Linked DNA regions of Homo sapiens: region 2 is linked to region 1. Evidence: fine-mapped expression QTL. Tissue or cell type: whole blood. Region 1 holds a variant in brackets; the other region holds the start of a gene. All regions are shown on one strand. Distances are from middle to middle. Region 1 has its middle 24 kb from the start of FIGNL1. Region 2 holds the start of FIGNL1 (fidgetin like 1).

Region 1 (8,957 bases):
TCAAATGTTTATCCAAAAATGCAAGATTTCCTGTATACATTCACTTTAAAGCCAGGAACTGAGTCATATTGTGTGTATTTCATGTTAATTCTCAAGTCAAAACGCGATAGTAGTTCTTATTTCATGATACAAAGAACTTTGCTTCTGCTTCACTCTGTGAATATTATAGACAAAAATAAATAATGAACACCTAATGCAAGAAGTCTCAAAACCAAAGAGCTGAGGAAATATATTTGGCAAAGATTTTAGCTCTAAATTCAGGCTTGGGTTTTGAGCTTGAATCCATTGGCTGAATCACTGATATAATTATTAGGCAACCAAACCTCTCATCTGTAAGATGGGGATAAAAATTGTTAAGAAAAATGATCCAAAACAGAAAAGAGAATGATTGGGTGTGTCCTTTTAATGTCATACTGGGACACAGGCTAACAGACCCACCCAAGGACCCTTTAATTCTCTAGGACAATCTATTTGTGTTTAACCTGCATTGCCGTTGACTTGGCCCTAGATTCTGTGAAGTTGCTTATATGCATGTACATTTGTCCTGTAAAGATACAAATGATTTCTGCCCAGTAGTGAAGATAACCCCAAAAGTGACACTTTATTGACCTGAAGACATTCACAGGCTTTGTTGCTAACTTAGCAAACCTGCTCCGGCATTCCCCTCCCAGCTACATGTACACACTCAGCCTCTCAAGTGCTCTTTTCCTCAACTTGACATCCTGCTGATCCCCTCATGAACTCATTAAATAATTTCTGATGATTCCTCACTATTTTTATGTGTTGTGGATTGCACAATGTCCCTGAAAATTCACATCCACCAGGATCCTCAGAACGTGACCTTATTTGGAAGTAGGGTCTTCGCAGAGGTTATTAAGGATATCACGAGGAAATCATTCTGGATTTAGGGTGGGCCCTCGATCCAAAGACTGGTGTCCTTATAGGAAAAGGGAGTGACACAGACAGATACGGAGTCTCAGGGGAAGAAGGTCATGTGAAGACAGAGGCCAAGACTGGAATGGCGCTGTGGCAGGCGGAGGAGCACTGGGAACCACCAACAGGAGTGTGGCCTGTCGACAGCCTGAGGTTGGACTTCTGGCCTCCAGAGCTGTGGGGGAAGAGATTTCTATTGTGCTGGTCATTTGTCACCACAGCCCTAGGACACTAGTCCAGTGTTTGTCAGAGTCAAGTTTCAACTCTGAAAATTAGACTTTGCCATAATAGTACCTGCTTCATAGGAGTGTTGTGCTGATCAAATCTTTTAATGCATATCAAGAGCTTAACACGTGCCTGCAACACAGTAAGCACCCGATAAGTATTAGCTATTATGATTAATGTAATAGATGACTAGTAGGGTTTCCGCTAGTGGAGACTGATGATGTGGGAGAGTGCCAGCGGTTTCTGTATTTTGTGTGGATGCTGAAATTTCTCAAGTCAACTTCTTCTTTTGCTTTGGGAGCAGTGGGGACAGCAGGTGCAGCTAGGGTAGCTGTATCCATCATCTTCAGCCCACCCCCAAAGTAAATAGTGCATAGCTTCAAGGCCAGTCATTCTGCAGCCTTCCCCATGGTTTTGCCTGGCTCCTGGAGTGGAAGATTCTCCTGAAAGGAGAAACTGTTCGGACTGCAGTCACCCCAAGCAGGGAGGGAAGAACTTTTACTGTGGGGTGAAGGATTCTTTGGGGGCTTGAAGCAATTGGGTCTGAGCTCTAGGCAGGAGGACGAGGCTGAAGGTCCTGTGTTGTAAGATGAGCAGCCTTCTGTAACACTGAGGCTGGGCGTCATCTGGCTGAGATGTCCCCAGAGGCCTCTGGGAGACTCCCTTCCAGTCTGTGGTCAGTTAACTTGAGGAACAGTATTATGTCCTATATCATTTTATGGTTTCCATTGAATGCAAAATAACTTATCTCTATGAACCATAGAATTTCCACAAAGTCTGTTAAACTCCATAGCTTGGTGTTGACGGTGCTTTGGCATCTCATGAGAGGGTCCTGAGCCCACACACTTGAGGGAGAATTGGAAGCAGTGCCACCCTCTTGCCTTGCCCATGAAGCTCGAAGGGGAGAGTCTGTCCTTTTTGTGGGCAAATGCTGGCAGTACAGAGTCCCTGTGCTGAACCTGTCATTCAAGCAGTCTTCCCTGTGGCATGTCATATCATGTATCGTATCAGATCATATTATTTTCGCTATACAAAAGGGCTTCTTGTGACGAGAACCACCCAGGGCTCATCGTGCCATGTTTTCCTAGTGGCAGCATTCCGAGTCCATCTTTCCTTCAAATAAGAAAAATGTTCACATAGCGAGTGGCCACGATTCCAGTTGCCAAAGGGTGGGATTGCCCAGAGTCCCCTAAGACTAATAAAGGAGGCATTAGAAATATCAGTGGGGAAAGGAAGATTATTCAAAAATTTTTGCTGAGATAATTGGTGAGTTATCTGATAATATACATCTAAATATCATTCTGACATTTAATGATATTGAGAGAGCTCTGCTGCATTTCATATCTCACTTCATGTGCCTTGTTATTTTTTCTTTTCTCTTAGCCCCTTTCAGATTCTTGCATCCTGCAAGTTGATGCTGTCCAGGAAAATTATTTGTGGTAAAAGAAATGTTCTATATCTGTACTGCCCAGTATGAAAGTCGCTAGCTACGTGTGCTCCTGAATGTGGCCAGTGCAACTGAGGGACAGATTTTTAATTTTATTTAATTTTAATAGATTTATGTTAAATAGCCATACGTGGATAGCGGCTGCTATGTTAGGCAGCACAGCCACAGCTGGATCTGAAAAAATTGTTATCACCCATCTTCTAAGTAGATTATTTCCTTAATGGTATCTAATTATTTTGCTTTGCCACAGTTACTGTTCATTGTGTTTTTGCCAGAGTTTGTGCTGGTGAGATTGAAAACATGCTTAATCTTAAGTGAAACATCTCTATAGGATTTTAAACTTGGAAATTATGGTTAAGCTTGTTTGCCTATCGTGAGAGATGTGAAGCAAAGAGAATCCGTAATTTAGCTGAAAGAACTACAGTCATGCTCACATGAAGTCTGATGCTTAGAATGTCCACGGACACATTATTGAAGTGGCATTTATTATCACTGGACACATTATTGAAGTGACATTTATTATCACTTTAGTAATGTAATTCAAATAACAGTGCCTCCCTTCTTCCTGGGACTCTACTTTATCTGTTGTCATTGTTGCTGTTGCTGCTGCTGCTGTTATTTTGGTAGAGCCACCTGCTCCCCACACCTGCTACCCCCCAAAGCTCTCAGCAGCTTGGGAGCTGAGCACAATCTGGGGCGCAGGCCTCGTCAAGGCCCTGACGAATGGATCATTTTATTGCTATGTTCATGTTGGTTGGCAAGTATAGATTCCCACTGAGGCTCATTTTGCGGGTCGGGATCTGAGGGCCCTGCCCTCTAGATAGTACTAGATAGATCTGCAGCCACATTTCTTGAAAAGTTCCAATATAAGAAAGACTTTCCATGTAGGGTGAAAGCCTACTAATAGATCTACTAAATAGAATTGTTTTTCTATTCAAAAAAGGAATCAGATGATGTTGATAATGTATTATGCTTGTATACAATGTTATCACTGGGGGCAAGTGGCTGAAGGGTACTAAAGAACTCCGTCTTATATTTGCAACTTCTGTGTCTGAAATTTTCAAAATAAAAAATTATTTTAAGATGAAGAAGGCAGGAGATATTTTAATCAGACAAAAAAAGGTGCATGAACTAGCAAGTTTCCAATAAGCAGTAGGATCTCTAAGTTTTTACACAAACAATAGCTATTGGAAGGACACTCAGGAATCTATGGAGGTAAACCATGTCTTTCTTTCACTATGAGATTTTTAGGGGTAAATACATATGGTTAGCAGTGAACTCACAAATAGGGCAGTATGTTTGAATTTTGGGCCACAAACTCAAGTGTGCTAGAAATATCATTTTACTGGCCTTACTATTTACTGCTACATAAAATTTATTCAAAAACTTAGTAGTTTAAAACATGAGATATTTATTATCTAACCATTTCTGTGGGTCAGGAATCTAGGTGCATTTAGCTTTGTTTTCTGGCTCAAGGTGTCTCACAAGGCCTCAGCTTGGGCTGAGGTCTTATCTGAAGACTCAGCTAGCTGAGGGTTCACTTCTAAGCTCATTTTATGATTGTTGGGCCCGAGGCCTCCCTCTGTTCCTTGCCACATGGGCCTCTCCACAGGGCAGCTCCCATTATGGCAGCAGGTGCAAATCAGAGTGAGTGAAAGAGCAAGAGAGGATGAACAAGCCAGAAGCTACAGTCTTTTGGTAAATTAGTCACAGAAGTGAGACCCTATCACTTCTAAATTCTGTTCATTAGCAGAAAGTCCCAAGTTCCAAACACCCTCAAGGCGAGGAGATTACACAGAAACATGAACAGAAGGCAAGGTTTGCAGGGACCACCTTAGAGTCTGCCAGAGTCCACCCTCTGGCCCCCAGTGATTCACATCCATGACACATGTAAAAGATATTCATGCTTCCCAAGGTTCCCCAATGTCTCTGCCCATTCAGGTGTCGGCACAAAGTCCACAATCTTATCATCAAGTCCAGGTCCAGATAAGTATAGTTCCTGGGGCCCACCCT[T/C]CCTTGATCTGTGGACCTGGGAAACAAAAGAGAAGAATGATCTGCCCCCATCTCACCCTGTACACACAGGTGGACAGGCAGAGGATAACAGCTATACACATTCTCATACCCGGGACGTACAAAAGAGTCACCAATCCATTACAGTTCTGAAATCCAGGCAGGAGAATGTTGGGTTTCTTGATTAAGCTTTAAGCCCTTAGAATAAATGACCTGTGGCTCTTGGCTTTGCCTTCTGAGTTTTAACGCTGCCCTCTGGGTCATCCTTCCATTTTCCTAAAAGGCATTTGCAGGTGAGAAGTTTTATCAGCCTTTGTCCTGCCAGTAGAATTTGGGAGTCTGAAGTGGCCTTTTGTTTTACTCTGTCTGTCCCCATTAGTCTAAGCTTGTGATGTTTCTGCTGAAACAGTTTTCTCAAATATTCTATGGGCTTTCTGTGGATTTTAATGGGTTCACTCCATTGGACACAAGTCACATCCACAGACCTTTTTGTAATAATACCTCCTCCACCTTGGCCCCCTGGGCATGAAAGACAGATAGTGCCCTTAAGCTTCCCAGAGGCCCGCTAATTTATTGAGAGGGTCTGTGAAGCACTGAAAGGTATTTTGTGTGAGTGAATATTCTGAGCTTATATTCCTTCTAAGATTTTGGCAAATGGTTGTATAGTTACACCCTCTGCTTTTCTCCCAGAGTGCATTTTCCTGACAATAAATCTCTTCATGTTGGCATCATTGCCATTTGGTGATGCTAAAGAATTTTCAAAGTCCTCAAGTCATGGTTCTGTTTTATGCACAGTTATTCTGTCAATATACCTATGCCCTTACATTTTACTATAAGCAGCAAAAAGAAACCAGGCAGCACCTTCAACACTTTGCTTGAAAATCCCTTTCACTATATAGCTAAGTTAATCATTTACAAGTTCAGCTTTTCACAGAATTTCAGGAGACAGTTTCATTGAGCGTTTTGCCACTATATAATAAGATTCTGCTTCTTCCAGTATCTAATAACGTGCTTCTCCTTTTCTTTAGAGATCCCAATGACAGTGCCAAAGTCTCCATAGCTAATAACAGTCTGTCCAAGATTCTTTAGGCATTGTCTATTACACTCCTCAAAATTCTTCCAGCCCCCGACCATGGCCTGCTTCCAAAGCCACTGCCCCATTTGTAGGGATTTGTGACAGCCCCCAACCACTTCTAGATACCAAAATCTGTATTAGTTATCTAGTGTTACATAACAAATTACCACCGACTTAGCAGCTTAAAATCACACAGCGTCTATGTGTTTGGAGTCTAGACATAGCCTGGCTGGATTCTGTTTCAGAGTCTTACTAGGGTGCATTCAAGGTGCCATTCAGGCTGCATTCTCTTCTGGAAGATCAACTGGGAAAGGCTCCATTTCCAAGCTTACTCGGGTGGCTGGCAGAATTCATTTGTTTGTGATTATATGACTGAAAATTTCCGGGTTTTGCTCCCTGCTGCCTGGATGTGGCCCTCAGCTCCTAGAGGCTGTCCCACCTTGTGGCTCTCACAGCAGGCAATTCACAACACAGCAGCTTGCTTCTTCAAGGCCAGCGGGAGAGTGAGAGTGAATGTTCTAGCAAGATCAAGTCTTAGACAACACAATCATGGGACTGACAGCCGATGACTTTTGCTGCATGCTGTAGTCTAGACGAAAGTCACAAGTATCCACCCCATTCAAGAGAGGGACTGTCAAAAGGCGTGAGCCCCAGGAAGCAGGGATTGTAGAGGCCACATCAAAATCTGTTCACCGCTAATCTCATCAGAAATGTCCTGAAGTATTGGGAAGCTGCTCACAATGAAAAGCTTCCTAAAATTCCAATTCTTCTTTGGAAACTTAAATTTTATATTTTGAAGAACTATTCAGTTGTTCTGCTTGAAGTGACAGGCTCATGCCATTCACTTACAAGAAAATCTTTGCCAAAAACACAAGTGTGAATAAACATAGTGTACCTGTCATTCTTTTCAGTAAAAATGGTGTTCCATCAAAGAAGTGGCTAGATTAGCTTGTAATTCAAATAATTGTTCAAGTGCTTTGCCTCGAGAAAACAGGTACTGTGATATGCTATAGATTTGCTTTATGTCTACTTCCCATTTTGTCTCACAAAATACCAGATGTTTACTCATGGATTGAGATTATTAAAAAAAAACTAACAACTTCCACTGCTTCATCAAGGACATTCTTAAGTAAAACTGGAATTTTTAAAAAACTGGGAATGTGTTGCAATGAGAAATACACTGGCTACCAGCATAGTGTGGAGTCACGGTGGTGATTCAGGCACCAGTAGTGTTACCCACCACTGCTTTTTCACCATCACTGTGCATATGAACACAGGGGAAAGCAAGTAATATCTGGGTTTTAACGTTGCATATCCCCTGAAAGGGGCTTAAGGAACACAGAGATCTGTGAACCACACTTTGAGAGCTGATTCAAAAGAACAAGTAGATAAAAAACAAACAGGAAAAAGCATAACTATGCAATTCATGATTCTTTAAAATCAGTACGCTACTAGAAAAAAATCAATTAGTGCCTCATCATATTAAACACAAAAGATATCTAGACAAAAAGGTGGGAACTTAAATACAAGAGATATACAGGATATCTCACCCCTGGCTAGGAGAAGTCTTTCTAAATGGAAAGAAAGAAATCACAAAACACAGATTTGAAGGTTTGACTGATAAAAAATCTACTTCCAAGATGGTTATCGCTTCTATTTCAACCTAACTTTACTCTGAGTTGTTCCAAACCCCAAATCCCATTTCTTAAATTTAGCCTGATGTATTTGTGAACAATATTATGACTTGAAATGATTTCAAGAATCATACCCATAGACTGCTTTTTGTACTATTTTGAAATATTGCTGAGAGTTTTCTAGTTACACCCTTTCCTCTGTTGCATGAAGCCAGAGCTTCTCACACTGTCACATGCGCTGGAATTACCAGGGGGATCTTGTTAACATGCAGATCCTTGAGGCAGTGGGCCTGGGCTGGGTCTCCAGTGATGAGGGTGCTGCTGATCCCTAGAAAACACCCAGGAACTAAGGTGCTAACAAAAATAAACTTCTGGAGGTCTTGTTAAGGCTATCAACTTCTTATTTCTCTTAAGCCCATATGGTTCTCTGCTGTTCTTATAAGAATTTTCTCAACACCTAAAGATCTTGTCCTCTACAACAGTGGAACATCCAGGGACCAGTTGAGAAAGCATGGTACACCCACTCAATGGAAAACTACGCACCCCTGAAGAGTTATTAGGAATGTTGAGTTCTGCATATAGTACATAGAGATGTTTTAATGATGATTGTAACTACAGTGTAATTCTAGCTTTATTAAAATATATTATGCTATGTGTTTGTGTGTGTAAACAGAAAGGATGATTAGGAGATAAATACACCAGAACATTCTGAGTTGTAGAATTGTGTCTGTTTTCTTCTCCATTTTGCATTGTGAACTTTTCAGATTTTCTTCAATGAGTATATATTACAATAATTAAACTTTTATTATATGCATTAAATCTGTTTTAAATTAAGATTGCTCTAATCTTTAGAAGAATCTGTGGTGGAAGCATACTGCAGAGATCCATAAGGAAACTTTTCACTGTAGTCTCAAGGTGAGATTTCATAAACATAAATTTTCTGAGTTGTAGTTGTTTATTTTAAAAAGACAATAAAGTATTATTTATTTAATATTATGTTATTTACTTGTTATTTATTTGCTTTATTATTTATTCAATGAAATATTTTATTGACTTTATAGTAAAAAGTAGAGAACATTATCTTTATGAAAAATAAAACATAGGCTGTAATCCCAGCAGTTTGGGAGGCCGAGGCAGGCGGATCACCTGAGGTCAGGAGTTCGAGATAAGTCTGGCCAACTTGGCAAAACCCTGTCTCTACTAAAAATACAAAAATTAGCTGGGCATGGGTGGCGGGCATCTGTAGTCCCAGCTACTTGGGAGGCTGAGGCAGGAGAATCGCTTGAACCTGGGAGGCAAAGGTTGCAGTGAGCCAAGATCGCGCCACTGCACTCCAGCCTGAGCGACAGAACAAGACTTTGTCTCAAAAAAATAAATAAAAATTAATTAATTAAAACACAGGGAACATGAAGAAGAGACAAGGAACACAGAGATTGTTGAGTTCTAGTACTTTTTAGAGCCAGTTTGGGGTGTTTTATTTTTTGACCCAGGGCCTGTACAAAATTTTATGGTTACCTCAGAAAATGTGTTTTTGTTTCTTACGCAAAGTTATCTTTGTTCATTTATTTTCTCCCGTTTAAAGTTAATAACTAATCTTAAGCTGATAGCATCATTTATCATGTTACCAGGGAAG
Region 2 (8,957 bases), 23 kb after region 1:
GCTCTTTGGACATTAGATTAATTACTATCTGTTTCCTGGCTGAAGCTTCTGGGAGGGGAATATAAAGCCTTTTCACCAATCTTCTCCGGGCAGCCTCATCAATTTCTTGTGGCCGATTTGTTGCTCCCACCACTAGGATACGATCTTCAGAAGATGTTGTTGCTCCATCTAATTGAACTAAAAATTCTGTTTTTATCCTTCTAGAAGATTCATGCTCACCATCTCCCCGTTGAGATAACAAGGAATCAATTTCGTCAATAAATATCACAGCTGGTTGCTGACACCTTGCAACAGCAAACAATGCACGGACCATTTTCTCCCCCTCACCTACCCATTTAGAAGTTAAGGATGAAGCAGAGATGCTAAAGAATGTTGCCCCAGACTGACTAGCAATGCACTTGCCAATTAGAGTTTTACCAGTCCCAGGAGGACCAAAGAGCAAAATTCCTTTAGGGGGTCCCCTTAAACCAGTAAAGATGTCTGGCCTCAACATGGGCCACACAACTATTTCCTTTATGGTGGCTTTAGCAAATTCTACTCCTGCAATATCTTCCCAATTTACTGGAGGTCCATGATCCATAATCTCATTCATAATAAGTTCAATCATCTTTGGCTCCAAGTTCTTCAGACGCTCATCAACTGGATGTGCTGGTTCTGTAGGTCCTGCCCCATAAGGCTTACATTGCATTCCTCCATTCTGCTCTCCCCCATCTTGCTTGGGTATAGGAGGAACAAACTTTCCAAGTATCCCTCGGGATCTACTAGCTCCTAGAGACTTTTTTACACCACCATATGAAGACCCTGATGCACGCTGAGGTTGGTGGTACTTTTTTTGCTGATCTACCCATAATTGTTCTTTTGCAGTTTTAAATGTAGGCAGGCTGCTATCCTCCTTTGGGCCATTATCTTCTGTTTTACTACAAGCCTTATTCAGTATTGGATTGGAAAGTGCATCAATGGTGCCAGAACCATAAAAAGACTTCCTCTGTGGATTTTCACAGGCAGCAGGAAAACAAGACTGGTTAGATAAGAACACATTAAGTCCTATGTTTTCTTTTGCAGAGCTGTGATTTTCCTTTTTGACATTTCCAAACAATGGTGTGACATGGAATTTTGCAGTAGCTGACTCACCTACAGGTGCTGAGAATGTAGGACAAGTCCTAGCAGTGTTAGTCACCATAGGTGGCTGGGCATTCTGAAGGAGTTTCAAACGATTGCTCTCCGGGAAGTCTTGGGTCCGGTCTCGATCATGAGCTGAGTTAGGTAATGAGTCACTCTCTTGAGAACTACCACAAACACTAAATTTAGGAAGATCAAAGACAGTGGCCTCCTTATGGATTACCACTGATGCAAGAGCAGGTTCCAACAGAGAGTCTTTGAATTTTTTGCCAGCTTGCATCATCTTCTGTACACTACTCATTTTGAAAACATTATTTATTGACAATCCAGACTGCCACTTGTCACTATCTGTTTGTTGAGATCCTGCCAAAGTTAAAATGTTTTCTGCATAATTATTCAACCCAGATTCAACATTGTCAGAATCAATAATTGCAGAATATTTCTCTGCATATTTTTTGAACAGTTTGGTAGCACAGACCTGGGAAATCTCAGAGTTTGCCCATGCATACTGAATGCGTAATATCTGTGCACGGTATGCATCTGCCTTCGGTCCGGTACATATGCCAGATGTAATTGCGAAGTAATTCTTCTGCCATTCACTCAGGTGCACAGATCTAGAGCTGGAGGTCTGCATTTTAGAGGTTCTATAACAAACAATAAAAATGAAAATCAGTATGAAGGAAAACAAAGAAAATACTTTAAATGTAATTTTGAAACTTCTGCTAATCTGAAGGAAGGGACACTGGACTTTTTATTTATAATGTAGATTTATAAGGACAGGTTATAAGAGAAATATCTAGTTAACTATAGATTTCAAGTATTCAAGACATATCAATATGAAGTCTTCAAAATTAAGGACTTGATTAAATAATAATTTATATGAGTTAAATTGTTCTAGTTACATAATTTTATCTGTAGGGAAAGCATTCATAAGGTTTAAAATTAATTTTAAATTTTAAAAACAATGGAACTATAGATACATAAAGCAAAACAAAATAAACAAGAGGTTTAAGTCTGATCTATAAAACTAGGTGAATGAGCTTAAGTGAGCTTTTTACTATCACTGATGGTTTATTTTTATTTTATTATTATTTTTTTTTGAGACAGTGTCTCGCTCTGTCACCCAGGCTGCTGGAGGGCAGTGGCGCTCTCAGCTCACTGCAACCTCCACCTCGCGGGTTCAAGTGCTTCTCCTGCCCCAGCTTCCCAAGTAGCTGGGATTACAGGCACCTGCCACCACCCCTGGATAATTTTTATATTTTTAGTAGAGATGGGGTTTCGCCATGTTAGTCAGGCTGGTCTTGAACTCCTGACCTCAGGTAATCCACCCGCCTCAGCCTCCCAAAGTGCTGGGATTACAGGCGTGAGCTACCGCGCCCAGCTGGTTCTTCAGTTTTCTTATCTGCAAAGTGAGAGGAACCATTGGAAGAATCAAATCAAGCAATGACTATGAAAATAATCTGAAAACTATCATTATCCTTATCACACAAATGTACAAACCGAGGCTGAGAGACTTAAAGAACTTACTTGAGATCACACAGCCAGTTATGAATGGTATCAGAAATCGAACACAAGCAGTTTCACTCCAGGTACTGTGCACTTCTGCATGTACACAATGCTCCTTGATGCTGCTATCCTAGGTCACAGATTGAACAGCATGGATCACAAATTTAAACTATGGCATATTTAAATGGTTTTAATAACATTCATGAATAAGTTCATCACCCTAAACAGAATGCCCTAGAATATCTGTTTCCTAATTTCACATAATTATTAAAAAGTGAAACTGTTACAATAAATGAAATAAGAGAACAAGCTAGCCTACTAGGAAAATGCTTTTACTTTAGATTTCTTCTGTCAAGTTATTCGCATAAGCTTCCTCACATTGTTACCTTTAAACAGAACTATAGATGTATCATATTGCTAGATATATAGAATTTACTTACATATCCACAAGAAAAATTTATGAAAAATTTTTGTTTCCTAACAGTATTTCAATTAAATGAAAACCAAGAAACCCTACTTTAGGTTCAAGTATTTGAAATTTTGCCTTCCAAATTACTTGTAAGTACAACAGCCAGGTTTAATGCAGCTTTTATCTCCCATAATGCCTTACAAAGACATTTGTCACATTGTAAGTAGGTGTTCACAAATCTTTGTTTAAAAAACAATTAGAAAACTTAAGATCCAGAGCTTTAAAGACACTGTAATTTATTTAAAGCTGTAAAGCTAAATAAGCTAGAGTCAAAACTAGATCTGACCTCTTCTGTCAAGCAGTTCATCCTTTTTTTCACTATACCATTTTGATGTTAAACTCATTTATACAATACTAGAAATGAGAAACTGAAAGAAAGGTGACTCAGAAAACACTTGACACAAACTTTCACAATTAATATTATCATTCTCTTCCTCTCCATGGCTTCATTCCCCTTTATCATCTGTTATCCTGAAATTTCTACCATACCTCAGAGTTCTAGTCACTGTTCTCAGAATAAACCCCCTTCTCTTTTCCATCTTCACCTTTCCTTCAATATTCATCTTCCAAGTCTTACTTCTTCCTTTCAATTCAATCATTTAAATGGCAAATAAGGATAACCAAAAACTGGCCATCACCGATCAGTGACACAACCATTGTCTTGTTTACCATTTCCAAGTCAATTTAACCTTTATGGCCTTTCCTAGATCTAAAAAGTATGATTAATTAGCACTGTCATATGAACTGCATTTCAATCTTCTTTATTTTGCCAATGTTCTGATTATTTTAATAATGTCATTATCTGTCTTCCTAGACAGTTGGCTTCTGCAGGGAGGAATTGTTTTCCATTCCATTCACATTGTCTTAGTACCTAGAATACAGTGTCCTTTGGAATAATAGCTACTAAAATACTGACGGAGTGCCTACTCAGTACCAAGCACTGTGCAAGCCTTTCATAGGATTCTGTTCTTGATGCAAAACGGGAGTTAAGAGCACAGGGTCTGGAGCCAGGCTGCCTGCTTTCAAATCCTGGCTCTATCATCTGCCAGCAGTGACTGCAGGAAAATCTCTTAATGTCTTTCTGCCGGTTTTCACCTATAAAAGAAGCGCAGCAACATCACTGAGCTGACAAGGTATTTTAATTCTGCAAAGCACTAGACAGAGGACTCAGCACTTAGAAAATACTCTATAAAATACTGCTTCTTCTGATTCCTCACGATGACCCCTGAAAGGTATGAGCCCTTCTTTCTCATCACAGAGATTAAGAGCTTGCCTGGGTCACAGGGGAACTGACTGACCCCCGCTGTGGGCGCCCAGAGCCCCGCTGGGCCCAGTAAATGCCTGCGGTAAGCGGCCCCGCCCCCGGACAGGCTCTGCCAAAGGAAGCCGCCCGCAGACCTGGCCCCGAGCCTGCCGTCCACGCCGGGCCCCAGCTTCCTAATCCTGGATGAGTCTGGTTCTGGGCTAGCGGGTCAGCCACCCTCCCGCTAAGACAGAAGCAAAAGGGCACAGCCACTGCCTGGCTCCCGCCTCCCACGGCCTCCCGCGAAGTCACCGCCCCGCGACCCCCAGCATTCCAGAGGCACACGCCCGCCTCTCCCCTACGCCCCAACCCTGATGCTCCACAGGGGTCAGCAGCGCCCCTGCCCCGCCTCCCGTCACCGCATCCTACCTGCGGCTGGTGTGGGACGCTGGCAGCCTCCGAAAAGCGCGGGGACTGACGTGCGCCTGCGCGCTGCTGTCGCCCTCGGACTCGCGCCGTACGTGCGTGCGTGAGTGCGTGAGTGCGTGCGTGCGTGCGTTCGGCGCGCGGGGCGTGGGCGCGGCACCTGGGCCCGGGCACCGCCACCTAGGCCCTAGCTCCGACCAGTGGTGTTCTATAAACGCTTATTACATCATTGTGCATAGGCTTCATTTTTAAAAGTACTCCCAAATAAATACAAGGAGGCGATGGAAATTGAATGAAGATTCGAAGGATTCCCATAGAGCGTGGCTCACTTCCCCTCACCGGGACAGCGAGCGGCGGCTCACCTGGGAGAGCAAAGCGTGGCTCTCCTGCGCCCACCCGGGAGAGCAAACAATGGCTCACCTGCGCCCACCCGGGAGAGCAAGCGTGGCTCACCTGCGCCCACTCGGGAAAGCCAGCCGCCATCCTGTGCTGCAGGCAGGGAGCGGGCGGCGGGAGAGGAGCGGATCCACTTAGGTCAGCGGTTAAAACGTCGTTACAAGAGGCCACCCCGGCATCGCGGGGCCTGTGGCTGCGCCCCCTCTTGAATTCAGGCCTAGCACATCACCTCCGCCCCTCGCACCCTGCAGTCTGCGCTCCATACAGCACGTGAGCGGGTGCTCAGCAATGTTCCCTGGCTGAAAGAACCGCATAGAGTAGCATGCAAAAATGACATGCATGTTTAAGATAAAATAAGGGAGAGGACACCTGTTCTGACTGAGTCTGGCAACTCAGATCTCCCCGCAGCCAACATCTACATTCCTTTGGACAGCTGTCTGCTGTGTAGGGACACCTCCCTGGAACTTTGAAAAGCACCCCATCATTACCTTCCACTTTGTTCTGGAGCAAGGTTTCAAAAGAAGAGTGCCGTATTTTGATTAATTTAGTGAATTGGATTTTCAGACACAAGTAAGAGCATCCACTCAGTGGCCTCTGCAGTAAATAATGATATCAGATCACATAACAAGAAGACTGGAGGTTGGCGGGAAATCTGGACCTGGTGACTCAAAGAAGTCATGAAGGACCATCTCTCCATTCTGCCACCTTCTCGCCTGTGGATTTTCCTCCCCAGGCTTGTCACTTCATTGTCGAGAGATGCCCTCACAATCCAAGCCAGGCAGCCTCACATGACCAGATCTAAAACACAAAGAGGGAGCCAAACTGAGAAAGGACCTTTTCCCTCTGAACACTTCTCTCTTGGAAAAAGAAAATGTTTCCCAGAAAGCCTCATAGCCTTCCTCTTATATCTCCTTGACTAACTGGGACCCGGATCCCTGGATATCCTTTCCTGAGAAAGAGAGGGTCTGGGGCAGGGGATAGAGAAAATGACTAGCAACTAGCAGCACATGATGTTTAAACATAAGATTTAAAGAAATGCAAGGCACAAACAATTTGAAGACTTTTTTTAAGTTTTTAAAATCTTCACAAAATAAAAAGGAATTGGACAATGCACTTTAAAAACTAGAAGACGTTTCACTGAAAACAGCATCTCCTAATTCATTTCATGGCTTAGATAGTAATAGAAAATTATTTTATTCTAATTCCATACTTTATCAACTAATTTTAATTATTTTATAATTACCCAAAATATGTCATGTAGAATGAAAATAAAAGAAAATGAAAACAGTTATATCAAGGCCAAGTCAGTTGTATGTTTACTGGCTATTTAGAAATTTCTAAATACGTGTATATTTAGAAATGACTATATAGATACTATTTGGGTAATGTTAGGGATGGAAAGTTTATGTCCCCCCAAAATTTGTATGTTGAAATCCTAAGCCCAATGTGATGGTTTTAAGGGGCGGGGCCTTTGTGAGGTGATTAGGTCATGAGAGTGGAGACTTCATGGATGAGAATAGTAAGTATCCTTATAAAAGAGACTCCAGAGGCTGGGTGCAGTGTCTCATGCCTGTAATCCCAGCACTTTGGGAGGCCGAGGCAGGTGGATCGCCTGGGGTCAGGAGTTCGAGACCAGCCTGGCCAACATGGCAAAACCCTGTCTCTACTAAAAATACAAAAATTAGCCAGGTGTTGTGGTGGGCACCTGTAATCCCAGCTACTTAGGAGGCTGAGGCCTGAGAATTGCTTGAACCCAGGAGGTGGAGGTTGCAGTGAACTGAGATCGCGCCACTGCACTCCAGCCTGGGGGACGGAGTGAGACTGTCTCCAAAAAATAAAATACAATAAAAGAGACTCCAAAGAACTTTCTAGCCCTCTTGCCACCACCTAAGGATGCAAAGAGTTGACAGCAACCTGGAAGAGCCCTCACCAGAACTCGACCATTCTGGCACTCTGACTTCCAGCCTCCACTGTGAGAAATAAATTTCTATTGTTTATGAGCCACTCAGCATATGGTACTTTGTAGCCCTAGACAGGCTAAGACAGGTAATTAGCAATTTTAGGTGATTTTCATCATCAAAATTTTCATGATGGCATTTTGGAGAATTCACATAAACCACTCTGTTACCCTCCTAAAAGTATTGCTCAAATACTGAATTATATTTATGCTTGCCAAAGTTAATTTTTTTCCAACAAGTAACACTAGCCACTTCATTTTGTGCTTTTGATACAAAAGCATTTCCCAATCCAGCGGCTTTCATCTTCTGGCCTGGTTGGCAAAAGTGTAACTCACTTCTGCACCCTCTCTGAACCCTAGTCTCCTCCTCAAATGTAAAACAGTAATAAACCTTTCTTACCCAGGAAGCCATTATAAGGATTATAATCAACATAAGATATAATTCTTTAATTATCAAAGCAGTTGCTGGCATGTGGCAGGCATTCAACAGAAACCGTGTTGCTATGTTATTTTTATTGTTACCATTAATATTCCTATTGGGATTGAAACCCTTATGTCATATCAAAACTTTTCCATCTTTGACAAATGAGACATATTAGGATAGTATCTTAATAATATGTAAGAGTTTAGTGCTTGAGCTATTCAATTATTAAACTTTGCTTCCAAGACCACAGACTGGTGGTATATACTGTGTGCGTGTGTGTGTGTGTGTGTGTTTGTGTGTGTGTATGAGAAAGAATATGCTGTTCTTTTCTTCTTCTGGGTAGAAGTTGTTGAGCCTTCAAGGGAAGAGGTTTTCACCTACAGCAGACAGTGCCAGTTCTCTTGGTGTGAGGGATTCTGGGAGATGGCTGCCCATTTCCATATTCATGAATTTTATAAACATGGTCTCAGATAAATGCAAGTGTACACTTCGGTGAGCTCATTTGTTTTTGAGCAGAGGGGATAATACGGCCCTAAATAATGTGCTTCCCTGTCAGCCAGGAGAGTTACATTCTGGAGATGTGTGTGTCGGTGGGTGCGGGAGGCAGGTGGTGTTGAGGAGATAGGGAAGCCAACAGGACAAAGCTCAGAGGGAAAACAGCCCAATCTAAATCCAGTTCTTTCTCTGTGTGGATTCCCACTGACTTCCAAACCTCTCAGCTCCCTGACTCAGTGGTAAGGAAGAAAAAAGTACCAGGATTGAGGGGATGGTGTTCTAGCCCTCCAGCAGAGGAGTAAGATGTGTGAGCCCAGGGTGAAGCAAGTGCACAATTTTAGTAAAAGATTTTCATTGGCCATACTGAATGAATCATAAAGGGATGTGAAGAGGCTACCTCTGGCATCATTGTCATAAACACAGCTGGTGAGGGGGGAGGTGGTGTTCTCCTGGTGTCAAAAGACAAAATTATTTACAGATCAAATTGGCTTTTATTCATGATTCATGAATCCAGTAGCCTCCATTCTATAAAATAGAATTAGAGTTCCCACTGGGGAATGGCAGAACAGTGGTTTTGTAAGGTGGGAACAAGGAAACAGTATTATTTTAAAGGTTGATTGGTTAGTGTCAGCTTAATTCAGACTACTTTTCTCGTCATGGTTAAAGCAAATGGGACTTCCTTATTACTCTGACTCAGGCAGACTGAACTCTTTCTGATGGGTTGCTGTGACTCTTGTTTTCAAGAAAAACTGGTCTATTTGGGGACCACCAGCTTTCTTAAAGTTTCAGCTTGGTTAAATGGCACTTAGCATGAGTGACTCCACTTTAGTTTGGTCTGTTGGGACCTAGTGCAGGAGCTCACTCTAAAACAATGCCCTCCCGTAATTTTTCTATAGCACCTGAAACGGGGTAGAGCAGAGAT

The links. PIP is the estimated chance that this variant, and not a neighbour inherited with it, causes the effect. A credible set is the group of variants that fine-mapping cannot tell apart.
Region 2: FIGNL1 starts here. The variant in region 1 is the best candidate, but not a certain one, in a credible set for the expression of FIGNL1 in whole blood (INTERVAL, PIP 0.65).

Annotation. Positions count from the first base shown.
Region 1 is chr7:50,422,265-50,431,221 of GRCh38, forward strand. No RefSeq gene overlaps it. Among named protein-coding and RNA genes, the nearest start is that of FIGNL1, 24 kb to the right of the region's middle. The variant T/C (reference allele first, on the strand shown) is at 4,619.
Region 2 is chr7:50,445,535-50,454,491 of GRCh38, forward strand. FIGNL1 (fidgetin like 1) reads right to left here and starts at 4,816. Exons shown (of 4, transcript NM_001287492.4): 1 at 4,767-4,816; 2 at 3,584-4,189; 3 at 2,647-2,755; 4 at 1-1,763. The coding sequence starts at 1,753. RefSeq lists an enhancer at 817-2,016 and silencers at 4,337-4,631, 4,773-4,962.